2 linked regions of the Homo sapiens genome follow. The protein of the gene in region 2 binds, or shares a complex with, the protein of the main gene of each other region. Links are inferred from orthologs where the notes say so. Each region holds a gene or a part of one and is shown on either strand. Other genes may lie near its edges.

Region 1 (6,880 bases), on a different chromosome or scaffold from region 2:
AATTCCAATTTTAGGACTTATTTTGCATAAATATTTGTACATGTGCACAAAAACATATGCACAAGGGTGCTTATTGCAACACTATTTGTAATAAAGAAAAACCAGGCCGCGATGGCTCATGACTCTAATCCCAGCACTTTGGGAGGCTGAGGCAGGTGGATCACCTGAGGTCAGTTCAAGACCAGCCTGGCCAACATGGTGAAAACGCATCTCTATAAAAATAGAAAAATTAGCCAGGCGTAGTGGCGCGTGCCTGTAATCTCAGCTACTCAGGAGGCTGAGGCAGGAGAATCGCTTGAACCCGGGAGGTGTAGGTTGCAGTGAGCCAAGATTGCACCACTGCACTCCATCCTGGGCGACAGAGTGAGACTCTATCTCAAAAAAAAAAAAAAAAAAAAAAAAAGGAAAAGAAAAAGAAAAACCAGAAACAACCCAAATGTACAGAAACAAATGAGGTTAAATAACAGAATGGGAATGGGGAGATGTACCTTAATTCCTTGCCCTCTTTTCCTGGTGCCCTTTCACCTCAAGAACAAAGCAGCAGAAAAAGGAAAAGGTCATGCCAGATTACATATGCACACCCAGAAGAAAGGAGAGTACCTGATTTTTGACAGGAGTAACATATCCTTTCTTTCGATAGTCGACAGAGTCTGGGGCTCTACCTTCCCATTCTGGGATATAAAGGGTGTCATTACTGCGGGAATGAGACAGGGGTACTTTGAGTCCAGTCATCTTCTGAACCACCTCTTCACTGGTCTAAGACAAAGAAGAAAGAGGCCAGGCATCAGCAGGGAACTAAAGCAAATGGTGCAGGTGGGACAGGAGCTGAAGCTATACTTGCCATGTCCCCCAGGTGGTTCATAGCCAGTTCATATGTATGGACACCAAGAGAAGCCTCAAGGTTATGGATGGAAATATACTTCAGGTTTTTTTCCCAAATTAAACGCCGAGAGATTTCATCCACCTAAACAAAGCATAGTCAGTACTTGTATAGACTGTCTACAGTTACATATGTAATATTGTGAAGGGTTTTAGGAGAATAAAGGAAACTCACAATCATAAAAGTTTACAGTTTAGTTGGGGAACTAACCATGGAATTAAGAGCCTGCAAGAAGAGATAATATGTAAACAAATACAACACAAAGCTCTGGAGAGACAGAAAAATTGCTTATAGATTAACAGCATTAATCTTAGAACTCTTCCCAAAAGAGAAATGTAACACACTTATAAAGCAAAGGAAGGATACAGTTTGACAGAGGATGATTTGAAGCATAGGAATGAAAACCGTATGTTAACATGAGTTAGGGAAGAGGGACTGATTTGCTTGGAATAAAGCATTTGGATTGAAGAAGGGAGTCTGGAAGCTAAGATGAGAGAGCTCAGGTCTCAGCCTTCCTGCCATGCCCCCTCCAGGACCCCAGGCACCTTGTTGTTATATTGCTTCCTGTGGGTCTTCTTCCATAGCTCCCAGTGGGTGTCCAGTATCTCCTCAGGGTACAGAGCAAAGCTCACCACAGGTAGCAGCAGAACCTTGAGCCCCCACATCCTGCAGAAGAATGTAGTTAGGGAAAACTCTTCCATTTGGCAGGGAAACAGAGGAAAACTAGGCTTTATGAGGAAGAGAAAGGTAGACGGAAAAAGGGTGATAAAACAATGATAGTCAGGAGGGGCCTGTGTTTAGATAGGATGCTGGTACATCTGGTTCCAAGGACTTTGATCTAGGGGGATTTAGCCATTTCTCTCTTTCTCTCTCTCTCTCTCTCTCGGGAGATTTAGGCAACACACACTCTCTCTGTTTCTCTCTCTGTCTCTCTCTCTCTCACACACACACACACACACACACACACACACACACACACACACACGTACACAACCAGAAATGGGGGATAGAAACTGGACAATCAGAATGGGCTCAGTGCGTTTCCTCCAGGGTCCCTAGCAGGCTTGGAGACAGACAAATAGCAAGGTGGTAGTGGGGTTCAGAATACACAAAGGAGAGATTTCCGTCTAAGTTTTGCCTCCTGATCATTTCTTCGAGGCGTTCTTCTCTTTCGTGCCTAAATTCTGGTACTTTCCCAGATCTTGTCAGAAGAGGACAAGGGAAAATAGGACAATGTTTCCTGTTTTCTGAGACATTGTATATCTCCTCATTCTCCTTATGCATTTCTTCTTCCTTTTTCTCTCCCTTCCCTCCTTAGGCAGGAAACTGCCCTAATCTTAACCAGATGCTGCGGGCAAGGTTTTTTATTTTTCCCCTAACAACAAAAACCCACTGTGGCTGCCGCAAAGGACAAGAAGCCTCAGATCCAAGGTTTGTTAGAAGAATGTTCAGACTGAAAAGCAATGTTCTATGATGATGAAATTCACAGCTTTTCATAAGTTTACTCTAGTTAGCTTCACTCATTTCTTGCATTGGCTTTCTTAATTACAAATCCTCCATTTTAAGAACAATTTGCAGCCTGCAGCATGACATATGGCTTACACAATTGCTTATAGTCCATTTACATGTAATTTTGCAAACTGGCAAAATGTCCAGTAGGACATTTAAAAACTAGAGTGTTAAGGGCTTTGAGATGTCTCAGTGAACAGGAAGCACTGAGCTACTACCTCCCCATACCACTCTCCTCCTCCTCACTAAGGAGTTAACCGTTTTGATCCTTGTTGGCCAAAGTAGAAAACACTGCAGAAAGGCCACTCTTGAAGGATGGGGAAATGATTCCCTATATACTTTGCTTTTACTAACAATCATGTATGTATATATATAAATCATACAAGGAATTCTACAGATTTCCAGGCAGATTTTATTTAGCCAGGGAATGACCTAAGAAGTGCATCTCTGTTTTCATCTGCAGAGGCTAAAAGTTTATTGTGATCCTCAAGTCACTACATCCCTAATACTCAGAGAATTGACAGGAATGAAAAGCTAAAAGATCTAGGAAGTTGCAAACGTTACCTGCTGATGGAAATCTGTTGTCTGGCTTCGTTTCGGCAGCAAAGTGTGGGCACACCATCAGGGGTGCTAGATTTATTCCATCGGGATTGCGGAAGTCAGCTCCAGTGATCGGCTGGAAAATTTGGGTAAGAGGAGGAGGCGGGGATAGAAATGCTGAGAGAAGGAAGGGTAGGGAGGAGGGAAGGAGGCAGTGGATTTGCAGTGTTTCTGTGTGTATGCAGCATGTGTGCCAGGGTAGGGAATTACTAGCTATTTAGTCTCACAAGACTGTCTTTGGTGGCAAATAACAAGACCTCAATATCTATTGACTCAAATAGGAGCTTACTTTCTCTTTTGGTGAGTAAAAGGAAGGACACAGCCCTAGTCTCTCCCATCCTTCTTCTTCAATATCTTTATTTTAATATTGGGGGATTATATCTTTTCCTACCCCTTTCCTGTTAGGATTTACCTCTCCAACATTGAAACCTATTTTCATATTTGTGTCTGACTCTCACCTCTGGGATGCGGTAATGAACATAAAAGGCTATAAAAGAATAATGTAATGGAAGCCATAGGCTCCAGAATTCTTTGTATTTTTATAAGCTTGTTGGTTGCAAGTTGTCATTACTTCCAGGCAGAATAGTTTTCCCAGCCTAATGTGGTTTTGCTGAAGGAGGATATGCCCAGAAAGTCCAGATGAAACTGTCTTTAAAAGTAACCAAAAACAGCAGTCCTGGTTATTTATGACAGCACTTGAATCAATGCCGTAAGTTCTGATGGACTCACATGTGACTCTGTTGCTAAAACTCTCAGGTGGTGGGATGCCCGATAAACATCATCTGTCTCAATTAAAATCCCCAATCTAGGACAAGTCACATGAGCTTCTCCAAATGCTTCCCCAACATCCAAGCATGTGACAGATCATAAGAATCTAGCTGATTCCTCAAACCACACCCCAAACTTCATTTTCTTCCATAAACAGATGTGGGGAAGGAGAAAAAAAGGCTTCTTGGAATAGAAAGGATAATAAATGGGATCTGTAATAGACTCAGTTTCTAGCTGGATTCCATGCATAAACCCTCAAAAATACAGGCTTATGCCTCTGGATTTTAAGAGCTGCTAACAGGCTAGGCGCAGTGGTTCACGCCTGTAATCCCAGGCCTTTGGGAGGCCAAAGCATGTGGATCACCTAAGGTCAGGAGTTCGAGACTAGCCTGGCCAACATATAGTGAAACCCCATCTCTACTAAAAAAAAAAAACACAAAAATTAGCTGGGCATGGTGGCACACACCTGTAGTGCCAGCTACTTGGGAAGCTGAGGCAGGAGAATTGCTTGAACCCAAGGGGCAGAGGTTGCAGTGAGCCAAGATCGTGCCACTGCACTCCAGCCTGGGTAACAGAGCGAGACTCCATCTCTCACACACACACACACACACACACACAAAAAAAAAAAAAAAAAAAAAAGTTGCTAATGAACCAACATAGTCTCCTAGAGGGAAACCAGGTCCAGACTTGAACAGTTTAAATTTCACTCATTTTAATCCAGAAAAGGACATACTGGGGGAAGGCATCCAGATGTGCCCTAGTGGTTTTCAAGTCCCGACTCTTCCCCTCTCTCCCAAGAACCCAGGCAACGCCCACCCCAAAACCCCCACCTCATGGTCAGAGCATTCCTGCTGATGTTACTCAGAATGTGTCAGGATCAGGAGGACAAGTGAGGGGGGAGGCGTGCAATGTGATCAGAACCCTATGATTTCTGATTCCTGAAATTAAAGACACAATGTGCCTTATGTTTGTATGTCTGGAGCTTAAACTATAGATTCCTCTGGTTGTGGGTGCCTGTTGTTTATGAACTGGAAAGGAATGATAAAGCCGCAATCAAGATCACACAACACAAGAAATTTTACAAAAGGAAAAAATATTTTGTTTGAAAATCTTTGCTACATGTCATTATTTTTGCCACTGTAAAGCTTAGCACAGATGCCAGCAATACAGAAATGGCCAACAAGAAAACAAAACAGTCAAAAATAAAACCCTGAAGGAAAAGCAAAAACAAAACCCCCAGAGCATCTTCTCGCTATCCTCCCCTTCCCCAAAAGCCCTATAATAACTGTACAATATTATAGTCCTGATCACATTTAAAAAGTCGATTATTAAAAAACAAGGGTTCCATTGGAAACTCAACTTTTTGGTTTCGTAAATTGTGATATAAATATATATGTATACTGTAAGTGTGCACATAGAATAAAAAAATAAACTGTCTCCTTTTTTACTCCACTACCTGGCACCAGACTGGAGACATAAGGAAGGGAAACTCAGCAAATGGACATTCCTTTGGCCTCTTCAAGGCCACCCTTGCTCCTCAGTCCCCTATGACTACATTTAATATATCTTCTCATTAATTCAGTCTTGCACTTTAGCTACTGGCCAAAGCCAATTTAAAAAAAAAAAAAAAAAAGCTGGTATCTACGACTGTTACCTGAGGAAGGTAAAGGGTGAGGGTAGTAACCTGTATCCGCATTTATATGGCTATTGTTAATTACCAAGTGACCCTGTTGAGATGGGTGTCCAGGCCCCATCTATCATACGGAATTATGATACTTGCACTCTAAAGCAAAACCCAATCTCAAGATTGGAGGGAGCAAAGAGGAAAAACCTCTTAGGGCCAGAGAGACTTAAATCTCAGTTGCTTGCTAAACTGGGTATTTTGAGTATGGGATGAAAGAGGCTACTTTGCAAGAGGGCTTCGTATTTGGTTTACACTCCAACAATGAGGATTTTCACTGGGACGGCTAATCCAAGAAGTTGAGTTTCCATGCAGAAATAACCTCTACAGAACACACATCATATGTGATTCTGACAGAAAAATGCAGCATTATCTTTATGGCCAAGTCTCGGGTTCCAGAAAGTGTTTATCTTGCCAGCCTATTTAGGTAATGTTTGCAGATCTTCCAGATAAGGTGAGAGCACCAAAAGCAGCAGTAACCCAGCTTTATCACTGAATGTGTTCGATAACAGACAATCGTATCAACAGCCGACTTTCTATATTTGCTTTACAGTTGTATATTGGCTGGGCATGGATGCAAGCGCAGCAAAGACGTTTATTTAAATATTCTTTGGCTGCAATACTAAGTGGAAAATACCTGGAAGATTTAACTCCTTAGGACTCTTTGAAAAGTACACAGAAAGACAAAGGTAAAATCGGGGACAAATTTTGCATAACTCCCTAATAGGGAGAAAGAGTGAAATACAGAAGCATGTGTGCGCACACACACACACACACACATACACACACACTCTCTCTCACTTACTCACATGTTTCTTTCCAGAGGGACTGCTCACAGGCAGCAAAAAGAGCCTATGCTCAAACTTGCTAAAGCCCCATATATACCTACAATGTTTCATGGTCCTCAAATATGAGGACATTTCTCCTCTCCTCCACTCTCTTCAGAATTTCTTTCCAAAAACAAGCCATACTATCCAAGGCAAACAGTGGATGTCAGGTTCTTCTAACCTGCCTCTTGATCTCAGCACAAATCAACACTATACAATTTCAGGTCAGGAGACATAAGGAAAGGTGTTTTAACTTCACCCAGCCTCAAATTTTCAGACAGTCCTAAAAGCCTTGGAGATTCATTCCATTTCTTCTATAAATGTTACCTTAGAGAGGCAACAGAGCAGGGGAACAGCCAGAAGGGAAAGGGGGTACATGTCAGGGGTGAGGGAAGGGAAGGGAGAGGAACTTTTATTCTGTTTACAGAAAGATTTGCTTTTTAAAAACAAACAGTGATTTTTTCTCCCCCACCCCTTATCCTCACCCCAATAGTTCTATTCTGAAAAGGGGGGAAACATAGTTAGATCAGGGAATTCTTCATTGTTGTAGCTGTTGCTCTGATCTCCCAGCATGGACAGCATCTCCTGATAAAAGAAAAAGATTAAGTTTGGGTC
Region 2 (7,576 bases):
GTATGTTCACAGAAACCCCCATGTATGTGAATGTATGTGCACAGACACCCCCACACATATGTGCACACACATATACTCACACACCCACACCTATCCATGCATAAACCCCCACACTTCCCCAACACATCCACACACCCACTTGCACACACTCACGTGCACTTCCCCACACAAACCTATACTTGGAAACACATATGCATCTCCACGTGTACACACACTCAGGCACATGCACACGTACCCTGCAGAACATGTGCATCACACACACACACACACACACACACCCCTCTGCAGTGTATGACTGGCCCTGGACCCATATAAGGCACATACCCTTTTCAGATGTGGCTGGTCATGGAAGGGGCAGTTGTCCAAGTTGGGCTGGGTCTTGGTACACGTGGTTCGGCCCAGCTCCACGTCCAAGAAGTAGTTCACCCCAGCTACGATCTACACATGTGAAAGAGCAGGAGGCAGGGACAGCACGTTCTGTCAGTTTCTTACACACACAGGCACTTCACTGTGACCGGGTCACTGGGCTTGCCTGGGGCTTCAAGCCTACCTTCATGAGCTGCCCACATTGTCACCTGCAAGGCACACAAGCCACCTCCTCCTGCCAGCTGGCAGGGATGCCATGCCCCAGGCCTCCCCGGTAACTTGTTTCTCTATGCCAATGCCAAGGATTAACTGAATTCCGCTACCTATGACCCAGGGGGCAGGGACACTGGATCTATTCTAGGAAGGTTCTCATGTGATGATGAAATTTCGGCAAACTTCCAGTTCCTGGCATTCAGTCCACAGAGCATCTCATTCCTGCCATTTAACCCAGAGGTATTTTTCCTCATTTCTCACTAGGAGATGAGATGCTCACATACATTGATGTTTTAGGCCAATAAACATTGCTTCCCACGTGCTTCCATTCCAGGTGTGATTTTCAAGGCAATATTTCTAAAGTGAGTCACACACCTGCATGTCTTAGGGTTGCAACTTCAGAAGAGAACTGAATGCTTTCCCTGCACAGTGCCGCCCCAAAACATGACTTGTCAGAACTGTGGAGAAGCATGGGATGAGGGACCCTGGGACCAGGGTGCTAGACCTTGCCCTGTGGAACCACACACAAGTCCTGTAGAAGCACAAGCAAGGCCTGTGATCCCTCTGGTGTCAGTCTGCTCCTCTGTAAAATAGGCTCCAGGGCCCAACGATCTACAATGCCCCATGCTTCACTCCCAGTGAGAGAGAGGTGCAGGCCAGCGGGGACCCTACACCAGGGAATGGCCCTCCTGTGCAGGGAGAGGGCCCCAGCTGACGGCTGCGGGAGAAACGCGGCTGGTCTGGACTCCTCTGAATTTCCAAGAGAAGGTGGAGGAGCTCTAAAGTCTGTGTCACTGTTCGCTGCTCTGCCATGGGATGCAGGTCAAGCTGGGCCTGGTAGCCCTACTGAAGCTCCCTCCCGATCCGACCCCCTACTCCGGTCTGCTGGGTGTCTTCATCTGGCTGAGGTCTAACTCTGCATCAGCTGATAGAGGCAGGGTCAGGCATGCTCCACCCCAGCAGGGACTCAGCTGCCCTGGGATGTAGGGGGTGGTCAGCCGGCCTGAGGGTGAAGGCCGCTAGTCCTAGGGGACTGTGCCCAGGGGTGTGACTTGGGGAGGGAAGCAGGGCTCTGCAGGACAAGGTGCCAGGCTCACGTGTGGCCCCTGCGGAGAGTATTCTGGGAGGAGGATGAGCCGCATGGCCTAGATCTCATCTTGAGCAGCATCAAGCCCACCCAGAGTCAGCATAGTCTCCATCCACACCTGCTAGACCCTGGGAAATGGCACGGTCGTGGCACAGACCCAGCTGCTGCTGCAGGTTAAAAGAGGCCGAGGGGACAGGACAGGGCTGAACTCATGCACTCATGGCCCAGGAGCGTCCTAGGGCACGAAGGCCGTCAACAGACAGGGAAAGCTGAATGAGTCTGAGCATTAGATCATGAATGTGTCAGTGCTGATTTTCAAAATGGAATAGTGATTATGTGCGATATTGCCCTTGTTTTTAGGAAAAACACACTGAAGTGTTTACTTTCAAAAGATTCAGGCAAAAAATGCATATACAGTACATATACACACACCCATATTCACATTCGGAAAGTGAGCTGGGGGGAACAAACAGGGCAAAATGTTAACATCTGTGCTAACATCTGAGGGATCTGGGTGAAAGATCTACAGGGATGCCCTGTGCTATTTTGCAGCTGCTCTGTAAGTCTGAAATTACGGGAGAATAAAAAGTTAAAAGAAACAAAAGTGCTTAAAAATTATTTGGTGGAAGAACAAGGAGGCAGCCAGATGAGGGGCTCTGTTTTTCCTTCTCCTGCGTATTCAGCAGCGCACCCGGAGCCCAGCGTCCCAGGAGGTCGGGACAGAGCTGTGTGGGACGTCCTGTGCCTGCCCCCGCGCTGCGGCGCAGCTCGAGCTGGCTCCTGGAAGCTGATCTTAGGCGCCGGGCGCGGACCTGACGTGTCCGTGCGGTTCCAGGCCAGGCCAGACTCAGGGCATTCCCGGACACGCCCGCCAAGGGCTCGGGGGTGACAGCGAAGACCGGGAACAGGGTCCGGGTGAGAAGCCCAGGCGCCGGAGAGGAGCAGCACGGGGTCCGGGAGCAGCGCGGGGGGAGGCTGGGACGGCGGGGCCGGGGCTTCGGACCCTGCGGGGGGCGGCACGCACCTGCTTGCGGGCGCGCACCACCTGCAGCGCGCGGCTGTGGTACATGTCGTTGCTGGCTTTGTTGTACTCGCCGACGGCAAAGTCCAGTGCACGCCGCACACCCTCCTCCTCCACGCTGGCGTCCATGGGGCCTCCCACTAGGCGCGGCGGCTTGCCGGGACTGGAGCCGGCCGCGGGGCTCACGGCCAGGGCCACGGCCAGGATGGCCAGCAGGAGCAGCGGGGCGCGCAGGGGCCCGGCCATGGTCGGCTAGGACGCGGGACGCGGGGAGTGGGGCGCAGGCGAGAGGCTGGAGCTAGATAGAGAGGACCCGCTGCGATACCGAGGCGAGGCCGTGAGCCCCGCGAGGCCGGCGACTGCGGTTTTATCCCTTCCGGCCTTCGCCGCCCCACCCCACCGCGGCCTGCACTCCCTTTTCCGGAACGCCTCGTCCCTCCCACCTCCCTTCTCCCTCCCCGCCTCCCCTGCCTCTCCCCGCCTCCCCTGCCTCTCCCCGCCTCCAGGTCCCTCCCTATCAGTCTCCTCCCATCCCAGCCTCCCCTGCCCCTCCAGGCTTCCCTGTCCTTCCCCATCCATCCCCTTCCCTCCCCTCCCAGCCCCTCCCGGCCTCTCCTCTCCCTTCCCGCCTCCCCTCTCCCTCCCCTCCTCCCCTGGCCCCCCAGTCTCCCTGGCCTTCCCTATCCATTCCCATCCATCCCCTCCCCTCCCCTCCCCCTCCTCTCCTACTGTCTTCCAGCCTCCCCTGCCTCTCCTATCCTCCCCATTCCTCCCCATCCATCCGACCATTCCCACCTCCCCACTTCGGGCCCCTCCATGCCGCCACTCTTCAGGCTCCTTCTCCTCTGTCCCTTTCCCCTTTCAACCCCCAGACACCGCCTCCCATGCCCCTCATCTCCCTCCTCCACTCCTGTCCTTGCTCCCACTTCGCCCCCACCCCAGCTCGGCCCCTCTTCATCGCCCCTCCCTCGTCCCGCCCCTCCTCTGTCTTCCCTTCCTACCCATTCCTGGCCTCTCCCTGTCCCTGTCCCTCCTATCCTCTTCTTTCCCCTCTTCTCACCCCACTCCTGGCCCCTCTTCCCCCACCCCTTCCACACCTATGCCCCCCTTCTACCCACTCCACCCCCTCAGCTCCATCTCTTCCCAAAGACCTGTCCCTCCTCCCAAGCTTAGGTCACCCTGCCCTCCAGAGAGGTGTCAAGGCCCCCTGGGCCCTAAAAGCATACGACCCCCTAGCTTCATTTCCTCAGAAAAGGGAAAGATAGAGGTCTCGGCCTTCCGGAGTCTTCAGAGGTCCTGAGTATCCGTGAGCATTTGGTCAAGGTCTAGAAATCACTAAGGCAGAGGTGTGATTCCAGAGGCCACAGGAGACTCAGGCCATGCCCTGTGCTAGGGAACTTTTCAAACAGAAGAATTAACCTTTATTTGAGTAAAAAACTCTGGGTTCTCCTTTCACAACTCATTATTCAGTAAACAGACTTTTCACCAGCTTCCCCCTGCACCAGGTAGTCTAGGAGCTAGAGACGGAGCCTGGGTGACCGAGCCATGGACACTACATTGCAGGGCTGCTGCCAGACAGAAATGTGACACGAACCCAGGAGCAATTTAAAACTTTCTGGGAGACACATTTCAAAAAGTAAAAAAGAAACAGGTGAAGGTAATGTTTATAATATTTCTTACTTAACCTAATATATCCAAAATATTATTTCAACACATAAGAAGAATCATTAATAACATAGGTTATTTTATTTTGGGTGTGTGTACTGAGTCTTTGAAATTCCCTGTGTATGTGGGTGTCAATTGTACTGGCCCCATTTCAAGCACCCTGTGGCCACATGTGGCTGGTGGCTGTGGCACTGCACAGCCCAGCATTAGGGTGTGTGGGAGGATGGCGAATAGTGATCAATAATTAATATCAGGAAATTAGTCTCTCTGTTGGAAGTGAGAGTATGGGATAGAGAGAGATGATGCCACTGGACCTGGTCAGGGAGGACTCTATGAGACTGGAAAGGTGAGAAGCCCTGCCTAGACAGGAAACAGCCCCAGGCAGCGGGAAGGGCCAGTGCAAAGGCCCTGAGGCGGGGCTGGGCATGCCTGCTCCAGGAAGAGGAAGCTCCTGGAGGGAGTGTGAGCAGGGAAGGGAACGATCTGGAGTCTCATGGTAACTGTGGGTGGGGCCGGGTGGAAGGTGCAGTGAGACCCATTGGCAGGCAGTGGGGGTGTCAGGAGAGGGAGCAGCAGCCACAGGATGAATGTGGGAGCCCACGGGTGTCTCTTGCTCCTCCCCTCTGGGCGTCATGCTGCTGGCGCTGGTCCTCTGCACTGCTTGGAAAACTCACCTGAGTTTAGAACATCACTGTGAGTGAGGTAGAATTTATAGACAACAAAATGTCTAATCTGGGGGATTTCATTAACGCATATACCCGTGTTACCACTTTGTCCAGACCTGTGACATCTGCCTTGCCCCAGACGGTGTGTCCTCCTGCCTCTGCAGCTCACCCTCATGCCCATCCTGCCCTGGCAGCCCCCATCCTGCCCTATAGACTCGTTTGTCGCCTGTCCTTGAGCTTCCCAGAAATGGAGTCCTGCAGAGCAAGCCTGGGTGTGTCTTTGTCCTTTGCTCAGTGTGGCTTTCCAGTGGGCCCTGAGTTCCTTCATTGCCAGGATTGTGAGTTCTTCTCCCCAGACTGAGAGGACCTGATCAGCTGGGTGCCCTGTGGGGTGACAAAGTCCCCAGCTTGGGATGCTGCGGACCTGGGCTGGAATGTGACTCCAGGAGTGGCGAGGGTGGAAAGGAGGCTCTGAACAGACAGCTGCTCCCTTTGTTCTCTCAACCCCACCCTCCATGCCTGAAGGTGACCCTGTGGCAAATGCCCTTATGGCGAGGTGGCAGCTTTGCCAGAAACACCAGAAAACTCTGGGCCTTTGCAGGGCACCCAGAGGACTCTCCTGGGAGTGGTGGAGGTGAGGGTCAGCCAGGGTCAGCCCAGACCTGCTGTGATCCTGGGGCTCCGCCATGGCTGGGGCTGGATCAGCAGGAACCCGGCAGCGGGAACAATATTACTCATGGATGCTCATGTTCAGTGGTGGGACAGGGGACCTTGTTACCCGAGGCCCAGTGACCATCTCACCCCACTGTCAATCCAGCGTCCCTAGAAAAGCCATGCACCCCAGCAGATACAGCAGGTGGCCCAGATGGTGTTTACTGCTGGGTGAGGGAAGGAAGGTCTTCAAACAGGGTTGCGCATATGCCTCCTAGTTAGACAGGAAATGGGGAGAGATTTTCAGAGAAGGGAAAGAGAGGGCAGCCCCTGGCCAGGTGCTTGTGAGCAGAATGGTCATCTCCCAAGTGTGGGAGTTGGTTCTTCTCTGTGGCTCCCACCTTCCCTGGCCACTGGGGCTCTAGTCTCAAGAGGATGTGTTGTGCAGAGGGTAAGCTGAAATACACACAAATCCCCTGTCTTTTGTCATTAGGAAGGACGTGCAGGTCACCCAAATAGCAGGAGCATGGTGGTAGGTGGGGTGTGAGGTGGGAGCTGAAGTGCTGGCCTATTTCCCTGTATGTGATTCCACCGCCGGTGGTCATCCTCTGTCAGGACGTGCCCTGCAGGCACATGCTGCAGGGAGGGTCAGCTGGCCTGATGCAGCGACCTCTCTAACCCTTGTAGGACAGACACCAGTGTAGGGTGCTCTCAGGAGCTGCAGGAGCCGTGTTCAGTATGCTGTAATAGGAAGTGAAAGGTTACAGTAGCTGGGCAGCTGCTCCTGATATTTGGTGACCTTGAGCAAATGTTTTGCCTTCTCTGTGGTCATGTGTCTGGAGAGGTAGACTGCCTTGTAAACTGTTGTGCCTGGGCATCAGTGATGATGTTTAAACACGATTAAAAGTAACAGAGCAGCCTACAGCTTCAAAGACATGCTACAGAGACACAGAGAGAAACAATGGACCTAGGACTGAGCCTGGGGCCTCCAGCACCCATGTACTTGGAGGAGTCCAGCTGCCCAGGAGGGGGCATATTTCCCTTCTGCCAGGTGATGAAAGAGAAAGCCGTGGTCTCCCAGGCTGCCTTTTTGACTATTGATCTCATCATCTGAATTAGTAGAGTGAGAAATTAGGTAAATGGCAGAAATTCTCTATAATAAATAAGCAATAATAACAACACTAAACAATGCTATAATAAATAAATGACCAAACACATAAACAGCACCTAAAGGTGCAAGTGGTTAAATCAAGTTGGCCAAGAGTTGAGATTCTGCACTTTGGGTTTTGAGCAATTATCACTCGGTGTCTATAGAGGGAGCTTGGACTGAGCAGCCACGGGTTTTGGTAGCCTCTCAAAGGCAAAGCCCAGGAGCCTTCCTTATGGAGTGCCCGGAGTCCTCTGGGGTCAAGCCTGTCCCTTACACACAGGCTCCCTCCTTCTCCCCTCTCTCTCCCCAACGATGGAGGAAATGCAGATGCTTCTAGACCGTAGGCCAACATTGGTAATGCATTTGGCTCCAATAGAGATGAAGCCACATCATTAGGAAACTGATCCGCACTGGGAAGCCTGCTGGCAGCCTTGCAGACTGAGGCGAGAAAGGGCAGAGCCCGGTGTCTGCGGCCCATTTTGCACTTCATGGGGGGATGAGAATCCTTGGGACATTTCTGCTCAGGAGCAAATGTGTAAACGGCGCTCATCATTTTGGATTACAGGGTTAACATTTATTTTCTCAAGGAGTGCATTCACCAGAGCAGAGCCAGTGACTGAAGAACCACATCTGAGTGGAAGGGAGAGAGAGAGAGGCCTCCAGGGACACAGGCTGCTGGCTGGTGCTGCCAGGGCTCCACCTGACTCCCTGCAGAGGCCTGGCCACGAAGAAAACAGATGGCTCTGAGGGGGTTGAGC

Evidence for each region. Proteins that work in one complex are often made in the same cells at the same time.
Region 1: the proteins of CST3 (region 2) and CTSK are in contact, whole or in part, in a crystal structure (PDB 8V57), measured with the Mus musculus proteins. The link is inferred for Homo sapiens from one-to-one orthologs. Residues at the interface, in NP_034106.2 of Mus musculus: Pro27, Arg28, Met29, Leu30, Gly31, Ala32, Pro33, Gln75, Leu76, Val77, Ala78, Val80, Asn81, Tyr122, Pro125, Trp126, Lys127, Thr133; in NP_031828.2 of Mus musculus: Asn132, Gln133, Gly134, Gln135, Cys136, Gly137, Cys139, Trp140, Glu173, Asn174, Tyr175, Cys177, Gly178, Gly179, Gly180, Tyr181, Met182, Ser248, Ala251, Ser252, Gln257, Phe258, Val274, Asn275, His276, Ala277, Ser297, Trp298, Ser301, Trp302.

Annotation. Positions count from the first base shown.
Region 1 is NC_000001.11:150,805,261-150,812,140, forward strand, and holds the start of CTSK (cathepsin K preproprotein), read right to left. Parts: upstream 3,001-6,880; 5' UTR 2,954-3,000; intron 1,547-2,953; 5' UTR 1,546-1,546; coding exon 1,426-1,545; intron 965-1,425; coding exon 842-964; intron 757-841; coding exon 601-756; intron 1-600. Other genes in the region: ARNT (aryl hydrocarbon receptor nuclear translocator), read right to left, coding at 6,761-6,850. UniProt on the Homo sapiens protein: Thiol protease involved in osteoclastic bone resorption and may participate partially in the disorder of bone remodeling. Displays potent endoprotease activity against fibrinogen at acid pH. May play an important role in extracellular matrix degradation.
Region 2 is NC_000020.11:23,634,930-23,642,505, forward strand, and holds the start of CST3 (cystatin-C precursor), read right to left. Parts: upstream 3,027-7,576; 5' UTR 2,934-3,026; coding exon 2,691-2,933; intron 439-2,690; coding exon 325-438; intron 1-324. UniProt on the Homo sapiens protein: As an inhibitor of cysteine proteinases, this protein is thought to serve an important physiological role as a local regulator of this enzyme activity.